Homo sapiens: one gene and its partner. The protein of the gene in region 1 interacts with the protein of each later gene in a biochemical or structural test. Each region holds a gene or a part of one and is shown on either strand. Other genes may lie near its edges. The genes, in order: KRT6B and UBE3A.

Evidence for each region.
Region 2: the proteins of KRT6B (region 1) and UBE3A form a complex in vitro, tested with the Homo sapiens proteins (one large-scale study listed by BioGRID).

Annotation. Positions count from the first base shown.
Region 1 is NC_000012.12:52,449,203-52,453,605, reverse strand, and holds the start of KRT6B (keratin, type II cytoskeletal 6B), read left to right. Parts: upstream 1-1,459; 5' UTR 1,460-1,527; coding exon 1,528-2,067; intron 2,068-2,985; coding exon 2,986-3,200; intron 3,201-3,533; coding exon 3,534-3,594; intron 3,595-3,752; coding exon 3,753-3,848; intron 3,849-3,972; coding exon 3,973-4,137; intron 4,138-4,403.
Region 2 is NC_000015.10:25,351,893-25,355,715, reverse strand, and holds part of UBE3A (ubiquitin-protein ligase E3A), read left to right. Parts: intron 1-1,032; coding exon 1,033-1,188; intron 1,189-1,289; coding exon 1,290-1,363; intron 1,364-3,823. UniProt on the Homo sapiens protein: E3 ubiquitin-protein ligase which accepts ubiquitin from an E2 ubiquitin-conjugating enzyme in the form of a thioester and transfers it to its substrates.

The DNA of each region.
Region 1 (4,403 bases):
ATGAATACATGAAATATTTTATATACATAAAACACACTCAAACACATACACACAAAACATTCATGTATTTATTTATATACCTTTCTACAATGCAGGCTCCCTCTCTATATATGCCAACTCCCTCCACCTCTTCCTCACCCATACAAACACACGTTGACACAAACACATATGCACAGACATGTCACCCATGGCCCAGGAAAAGCACAGGAAAATATCCAAGTAAAGATACAAGGATACACAAGGAACTGCTAACATTACTTCCTCCATAGATAGGAATTGGGTAACTGGGGAATGGCCTTGAGCTATATTATTTTGTTGTTTAGCATGTTTTACAAAAAATTTTTTAAAACATGTATCATGTATTCAATTTGTAAACATGTAAATAATTGTGCAAATAGTACTATTCAAAATTTAAATGGGCAATCTACTACATTTACTTCTAGAATGTTTAAATATAGACAGAATCTTAATAAGCTTCTAATTTTAATATGAAATATGAAGGTTAGAGTCTCATATTAAAGGAAACAATAGGGGTATGCAATTAGAAAAATCCCAAGAATGAAAAAGTACAATGAACAGTTAACCTGTTTTATTTAACAAATAAAAGTAAGAAATGAAGGGAGATTTTTAAATTTCAATGATTTAAAGGATATATCACTCAAATACAACGTTTATAGAGCTTATTTTGACTCTGATTGGGACACCAAAATATAAGAAATATATATCAAAAATAGGACTGCTTGAAGACTAAATAGACACTTGTTCATTTTAATTAGTATGTAAATTTTTAAGATATAAAAATAGTGTTTTGATTTTTTAAAGGACCTATTATTTAGATATTAATATTGAATTATTGATTGAAGACATAATATGACTTCTGGAATTTCCTTTCAAACAATCTAGAATGGAAGAGGAAATAGGGTTGAAGTATGAAAGAAATCAGGCTGGCCATGAGATGATCATCATGGAAGCAGGTGACAGGTATATACAGGCCCATTGCAGTGTTCTGCTTCTCTACCTGTTTAAAATTGCACCTAAAAGGTGAAACAATTATGGGGAAATTGTAATATTTCTGTTAAGGAATTCACAATACAGTGCCTGTGATCTCCAACAGCAAGGCTGGAAGAAAGTCAGACTGGGAAGAGGAGGGCACTCAGGGCATGTCGATAAACAGCCTAGCATGCAGAACCTTTGCTGAAGACAGTGACTAATTCCAACTTCATGAATTGAGAATACTCTTATTGTGCTGAGATCTCAAGTCAAAGCTGGAGGCAGGAACATTTTGCCTGACTAAAGGAAGCGAAAAATGCAATCTCGGTATTTCATAACTTTTGTAATAATGCAGGTGTGATCTCACTATTTGTAAAGCCCAGCCCTTCCCAACCTGCAAGCTCACCTTCCAGGACTGGGCCCAGCCCATGCTCTCCATATATAAGCTGCTACTGGAGTCCGATTCCTCGTCCTGCTTCTCCTCCCTCTCGCCTCCAGCCTCTCACACTCTCCTAAGCCCTCTCATCTCCTGGAACCATGGCCAGCACATCCACCACCATCAGGAGCCACAGCAGCAGCCGCCGGGGTTTCAGTGCCAACTCAGCCAGGCTCCCTGGGGTCAGCCGCTCTGGCTTCAGCAGCATCTCCGTGTCCCGCTCCAGGGGCAGTGGTGGCCTGGGTGGCGCATGTGGAGGAGCTGGCTTTGGCAGCCGCAGTCTGTATGGCCTGGGGGGCTCCAAGAGGATCTCCATTGGAGGGGGCAGCTGTGCCATCAGTGGCGGCTATGGCAGCAGAGCCGGAGGCAGCTATGGCTTTGGTGGCGCCGGGAGTGGATTTGGTTTCGGTGGTGGAGCCGGCATTGGCTTTGGTCTGGGTGGTGGAGCCGGCCTTGCTGGTGGCTTTGGGGGCCCTGGCTTCCCTGTGTGCCCCCCTGGAGGCATCCAAGAGGTCACTGTCAACCAGAGTCTCCTGACTCCCCTCAACCTGCAAATTGACCCCGCCATCCAGCGGGTGCGGGCCGAGGAGCGTGAGCAGATCAAGACCCTCAACAACAAGTTTGCCTCCTTCATCGACAAGGTGAGCCAGTGCCATGCCCTCCATCGGGCACTTCAGGGTCCCCAGACCAGAAGAGCAACACCTTCCTGCCGGAGAGACCCTAGGAGGGAGGGAGAAGGGGACTCAGCCCAGCTCTGCAGAGAGTGCAGGTGGCTCTCGGTGCACAGGAGGCAGCACAGATGGGCATCACTCCCCCATGGGATATCTGGAGTGGCCCTCACTCCTGCCTAGGGAGAGCCATAACTTTTCATAACCCTGAAGCACAGATGAGGCCATCAGAGAGTGGAGTAGGTTAATTCTCCCCTCTGAAGTGTTTAAGAGATTACAAAGCAAATGCCAGGAGTATATGGGCTGGTAAATTACACTCTGGGGTCTGGGTAAGAGGAAAAAGATTTAGAAAGAAAAGGAAAAGATAATCTGGCTGGATTAAGAAAAAAAGGGACATAGAAACAACTGTAAAACATGGATAAATGCTAATTAATTTTAAAAACAGAGAATGACCATAACATCAGAATATTTGAGAGGAGACACTAAATGGGAAAGTAGACTGAAATGTAATCATGAGTCAACATCTAATATCCCTCCTAACTAAGATCCTCTCGGTAAAAAAAACTGTGTACAATATATCAGGTAATTAGTATTTTTAAACTAGATTTGTGATTGTGCTTGGAAAAAGAAAAGAAGAAATGTTGAAACTCACTGATGATCAATAGCTTACAGTGCGAGAACACCTCAGTGGTCCGTGGGACAATTTCTCTAGTGAGACTGGTGGGGTGCAAAGGAGAAGGAGTTGGGGGAGCAGAGCTCAGCCTGAGCCTCTCTACATGCACTGTAGTAGCCCAGCACCATGGGGACCTCCCAGACCTCCAGGAAACTGGATACCAGACACTTTCTCTGCCTTCCTTTTCCTGGAAAATGACCATTTTGCTTCCCCTCCAGGTGCGGTTCCTAGAGCAGCAGAACAAGGTTCTGGACACCAAGTGGACCCTGCTGCAGGAGCAGGGCACCAAGACTGTGAGGCAGAACCTGGAGCCGTTGTTCGAGCAGTACATCAACAACCTCAGGAGGCAGCTGGACAACATCGTGGGGGAACGGGGTCGTCTGGACTCGGAGCTGAGAAACATGCAGGACCTGGTGGAGGACCTCAAGAACAAGTGAGGACTCCATTTCCTGCAGCACACACTTCAAGACTATTGGGTGACCAGGGCCAGATGTGTGTAGGATTCCTAACAACCCATGTCCATGGAAATGAAAAGCACAAATTAGTCCCTAGGAGCAAACCTGCAAGAACCACAGATGGTTATGGGAGGATGGGGAGATTAAAGAAATGGCAAATTTAGTAGTAGCAAAATTCATCTCTTTGGCTCTCTGTGGCAGGAAAGCTCAATTAGAATATATTCCATTCAGGAAAATGTTGAATCCCAAGCTGCTTTTCTGTTTCATCCTACCCACTGGCTCAAATGTGTCCCATGCCTTTCTTCCTGTAGATATGAGGATGAAATCAACAAGCGCACAGCAGCAGAGAATGAATTTGTGACTCTGAAGAAGGTGAGCAGATGAAGCCAGGGGTTCAAATTCATTTAGAAGGAGAGAAGTGGCTCTGTGTCCTCGCTCCCCTGGGAGAGGAGAATTGGCAGGAGGACTAGAAGATGGGTAGATTGGAAAGGTGAGCTCAGGCAACTCCAGGTTGTTGGCTCTTTCCCCAGGATGTGGATGCTGCCTACATGAACAAGGTTGAACTGCAAGCCAAGGCAGACACTCTTACAGATGAGATCAACTTCCTGAGAGCCTTGTATGATGCAGTAAGCAACTCCACCATCCTTCTGTTTACTCTGATGGGGTCTGCAAAGGGGAGAAGATGTACAGGGCTGGGCATCTCTGTAAATGTCAGAAGTGAAGTTGATCTTATGACCTTCTGTTCTGCAGGAGCTGTCCCAGATGCAGACCCACATCTCAGACACATCCGTGGTGCTATCCATGGACAACAACCGCAACCTGGACCTGGACAGCATCATCGCTGAGGTCAAGGCCCAATATGAGGAGATTGCTCAGAGGAGCAGGGCTGAGGCTGAGTCCTGGTACCAGACAAAGGTGAGCACGGAGTGGACAGCCGCTGAGGAATCCTTGTGTCCATCCCTGAATACCAGAGGACTGCAGACTTCACTGGGGACATCCCCTGACAGGAAGCTGGGGTCCTCTCACAGGACATGCACTCTGCACTATTAGAGTAGACATTTGCGGAACTTATGCCCAAGTCAAGGAGGAAAAACAACCCAATGCAGGAGGCAAGCTACGATAGACAAGGACATAGTCATCTGTGCTTTTAGCTTCACCTTGGTTGCTGACTTTTAGAAATT
Region 2 (3,823 bases), on another chromosome or scaffold:
CACACAGTTGGGCACTAAAGCCCCTTTTAGAGAAAGAGGACATGAAGCAGGAGATAGTTAATAGCTAAGTGTGGTTGTAGTATAAAGCAAGAAGCAGGGTGTTTCTTGTATTAAGCTGTAAGCAGGAACCTCATGATTAAGGTCTTTATCACAGAACAAATAAAAATTACATTTAATTTACACATGTATATCCTGTTTGTGATAAAAATACATTTCTGAAAAGTATACTTTACGTCAGATTTGGGTTTCTATTGACTAAAATGTGTTCATCGGGAATGGGAATAACCCAGAACATAACAAGCAAAAAATTATGACAAATATATAGTATACCTTTAAGAAACATGTTTATATTGATATAATTTTTTGATTAAATATTATACACACTAAGGGTACAAAGCACATTTTCCTTTTATGATTTGATACAGTAGTTTATGTGTCAGTCAGTACTTCCACATTTTTGCTGAACTGGATACAGTAGGCAGCTTACCAAATATTCTATGGTAGAAAACTTGGGACTTCCTGGTTTGCTTAAATCAAATATATTGTACTCTCTTAAAACGGTTGGCATTTATAAATAGATGGATACATGGTTTAAATGTGTCTGTTTACATACCTAGTTGAGAGAACCTAAAGAATTTTCTGCGTCTCCAGCATTTATATTCAGTTCTGTTTAATACATTATCGAAATTGACATTTATAAGTATGACAGTTTTGTGTATATGGCCTTTTCATAGCTTAATATTGGCTGTAACAGAGAATTGTGAAATTGTAAGAAGTAGTTTTCTTTGTAGGTGTAAAATTGAATTTTTAAGAATATTCTTGACAGTTTTATGTATATGGCCTTTTCATAGCTTAATATTGGCTATAACAGAGAATTGTGAAATTGTTAAGAAGTAGGTGTAAAATTGAATTTTTAAGAATATTCTTGAATGTTTTTTTCTTGGAAAAATTAAAAAGCTATGCAGCCCAATAACTTGTGTTTTGTTTGCATAGCATATTATAAGAAGTTCTTGTGATTAATGTTTTCTACAGGAATTTGTCAATCTTTATTCTGACTACATTCTCAATAAATCAGTAGAAAAACAGTTCAAGGCTTTTCGGAGAGGTTTTCATATGGTGACCAATGAATCTCCCTTAAAGTACTTATTCAGACCAGAAGAAATTGAATTGCTTATATGTGGAAGCCGGGTAAGAAAGCAGGTGTCTGCAAAAAGTCATGTATCGATTTATTGTTTGTAATGATACAGTAGTATAGCAGATAACTAAGACATATTTTCTTGAATTTGCAGAATCTAGATTTCCAAGCACTAGAAGAAACTACAGAATATGACGGTGGCTATACCAGGGACTCTGTTCTGATTAGGTGAGGTACTTAGTTCTTCAGAGGAAGATTTGATTCACCAAAGGGGTGTGTGATTTTGCTTCAGACCTTTATCTCTAGGTACTAATTCCCAAATAAGCAAACTCACAAATTGTCATCTATATACTTAGATTTGTATTTGTAATATAATCACCATTTTTCAGAGCTAATCTTGTGATTTATTTCATGAATGAAGTGTTGTTATATATAAGTCTCATGTAATCTCCTGCATTTGGCGTATGGATTATCTAGTATTCCTCACTGGTTAGAGTATGCTTACTGCTGGTTAGAAGATAATTAAAATAAGGCTACCATGTCTGCAATTTTTCCTTTCTTTTGAACTCTGCATTTGTGAACTGTTACATGGCTTCCCAGGATCAAGCACTTTTTGAGTGAAATGGTAGTCTTTTATTTAATTCTTAAGATAATATGTCCAGATACATACTAGTATTTCCATTTTACACCCTAAAAAACTAAGCCCTGAATTCTCACAGAAAGATGTAGAGGTTCCCAGTTCTATCTGCTTTTAAGCAAATGCCCTTACTACTCTACTGTCTACTTCTGTGTACTACATCATCCAATTCTGAAAGACATAGGCTTCCCCATCCCCTGCTAAGACTGGTTCAAGTGGCAGCTACTGATGGATTGCAGTGAGAAGGCATGCAAACACGTACCTTCCTGGAAGTTGTCTCCAAAGGCTATTGCTCTAAGACTCAAGTATATAAACACTAGAATGAATATCAACTCTATCTAGCAATAAATGTTATTTTTATATTACAGTTGACCCTTGAACAACACAGCTGTGAACTTCATGGGCCCTCTGACATGCAGATTTTTTTTCTCAACTAAGAGCAGATTCAGTATTGGTGGGACTCAGAACCTGCATATACAGAGGGCTGACTTTCATACATGCCAGTTTCACAGGGCCAACTGCAGAACTTGAGCGTGCATGGATTTTGGTATACACACGTGGTCCTGGAACCAATCCCTGTCACATATACCAAGGGATGGCTGTATGTTACTTTATATTCATTTGTTCTGTTATTTTATAAGGTTGTTCGTCGTGGTATGTGGGAATTCACCAGTATTTCTTCTTTCTGGTGCACCGTTGGTCATTTCTGGCAGCAGTGGTGAATGTATTTACTCTTAGCAACCTCTGTGCTGCTACCTGTTCTGAGTTTCAAAGGTGATTCATTAAAGGGTTGGGATAACATGGTGATAGGAAAAACCCCCCTCATCAGTCACAAGGAGTATAACAGCAATATCTCTGTAATATGATTGATCATAGATATAATTTCTAGTAGGAAAAAAAGTCATATCTTGATGCATCTCTGAGAATAGTTGAACATATCTTGTGCTATTCTTTATAGAGAAATTATCTTTGAAATTAAAGTCTTAATTTTACTTCTAGCTTTTTATAACAACATAATCCCTACTTGGTATGTATCTTAAGATCATTTTTAAATGTATGATTTGAAGGGCAAACTAGTGTTATGTGAAAAATGACAGATAAAGTAGCTTCCAACTCATCCTCAAGAGTTGATGATATTCTAAACCTTTTCTAACTAAATTCAGCTTCTTAATTTTCTCAATATAAATATGATGAAAATATTAATTCATTAAATAGTCTACAAGTATTCGGTAGTTGAAGACTTAAAGTAGTGCTTGTAATAACAGAAGAGAAAAAAGACATTACAGGCGTATCTCACTTTATTGCACTTTGCAGATACTGAGTTTTTTTGGTGGCAACCCTGCATCAAGCAGGTCTACCAGCACCATTTTTCCAACAAAATGTGCTCACTTCATTAGCATTTTTAGCAATGATTTTAAATTAAGATAATGTACTTATTTTTAGACAATGCTGTTACACACTTGACTACAGTATAATGTAAACGTAACTTTTATAAGCACTGGGAAACAAAAAAATTTGTGTGACTCACTTTACTGCCATAATCACTTTATTTGCCATGGTCTGAAACTGAACCGGCAGTATCTCTGGGGTATGCCTGTATAGATATTTTGGTTGGTATTTATTTATTGTATGCAGAATTCATAAAAATAAAAACTGCGAGGCTGTTTAATACATTTCAACTAAAAGTTGCCAGCATCATTAATATGTAAACCACTAGAAATAAGATTTTGTTAATTTTTTGTTTGTTTGTTTAAACAGTCTTGCTCTGTCACTGAGGCTGGAGTGCAGTGGCGCAGTCTCAGTTCACTGCAACCTCCGCTTCCTGGGTTCAAGTGATTCTCCTGCCTCAGCCTCCTGAGTAGCTGGGGTTACAGGTGCACACCACTACACCTGGCTAATGTTTGTATTTTTAGTAGAGATAAGGGTTTTGCCATGTTGGCCAGGCTGGTCTCAAACTCCTGACCTCTGGTGATCCGCCCGCCTCGGCCTCCCAAAGTGCTGGGATTACAGGCGTGAGCCACCATACCTAGCAAAATCAACTCTGAATCTGA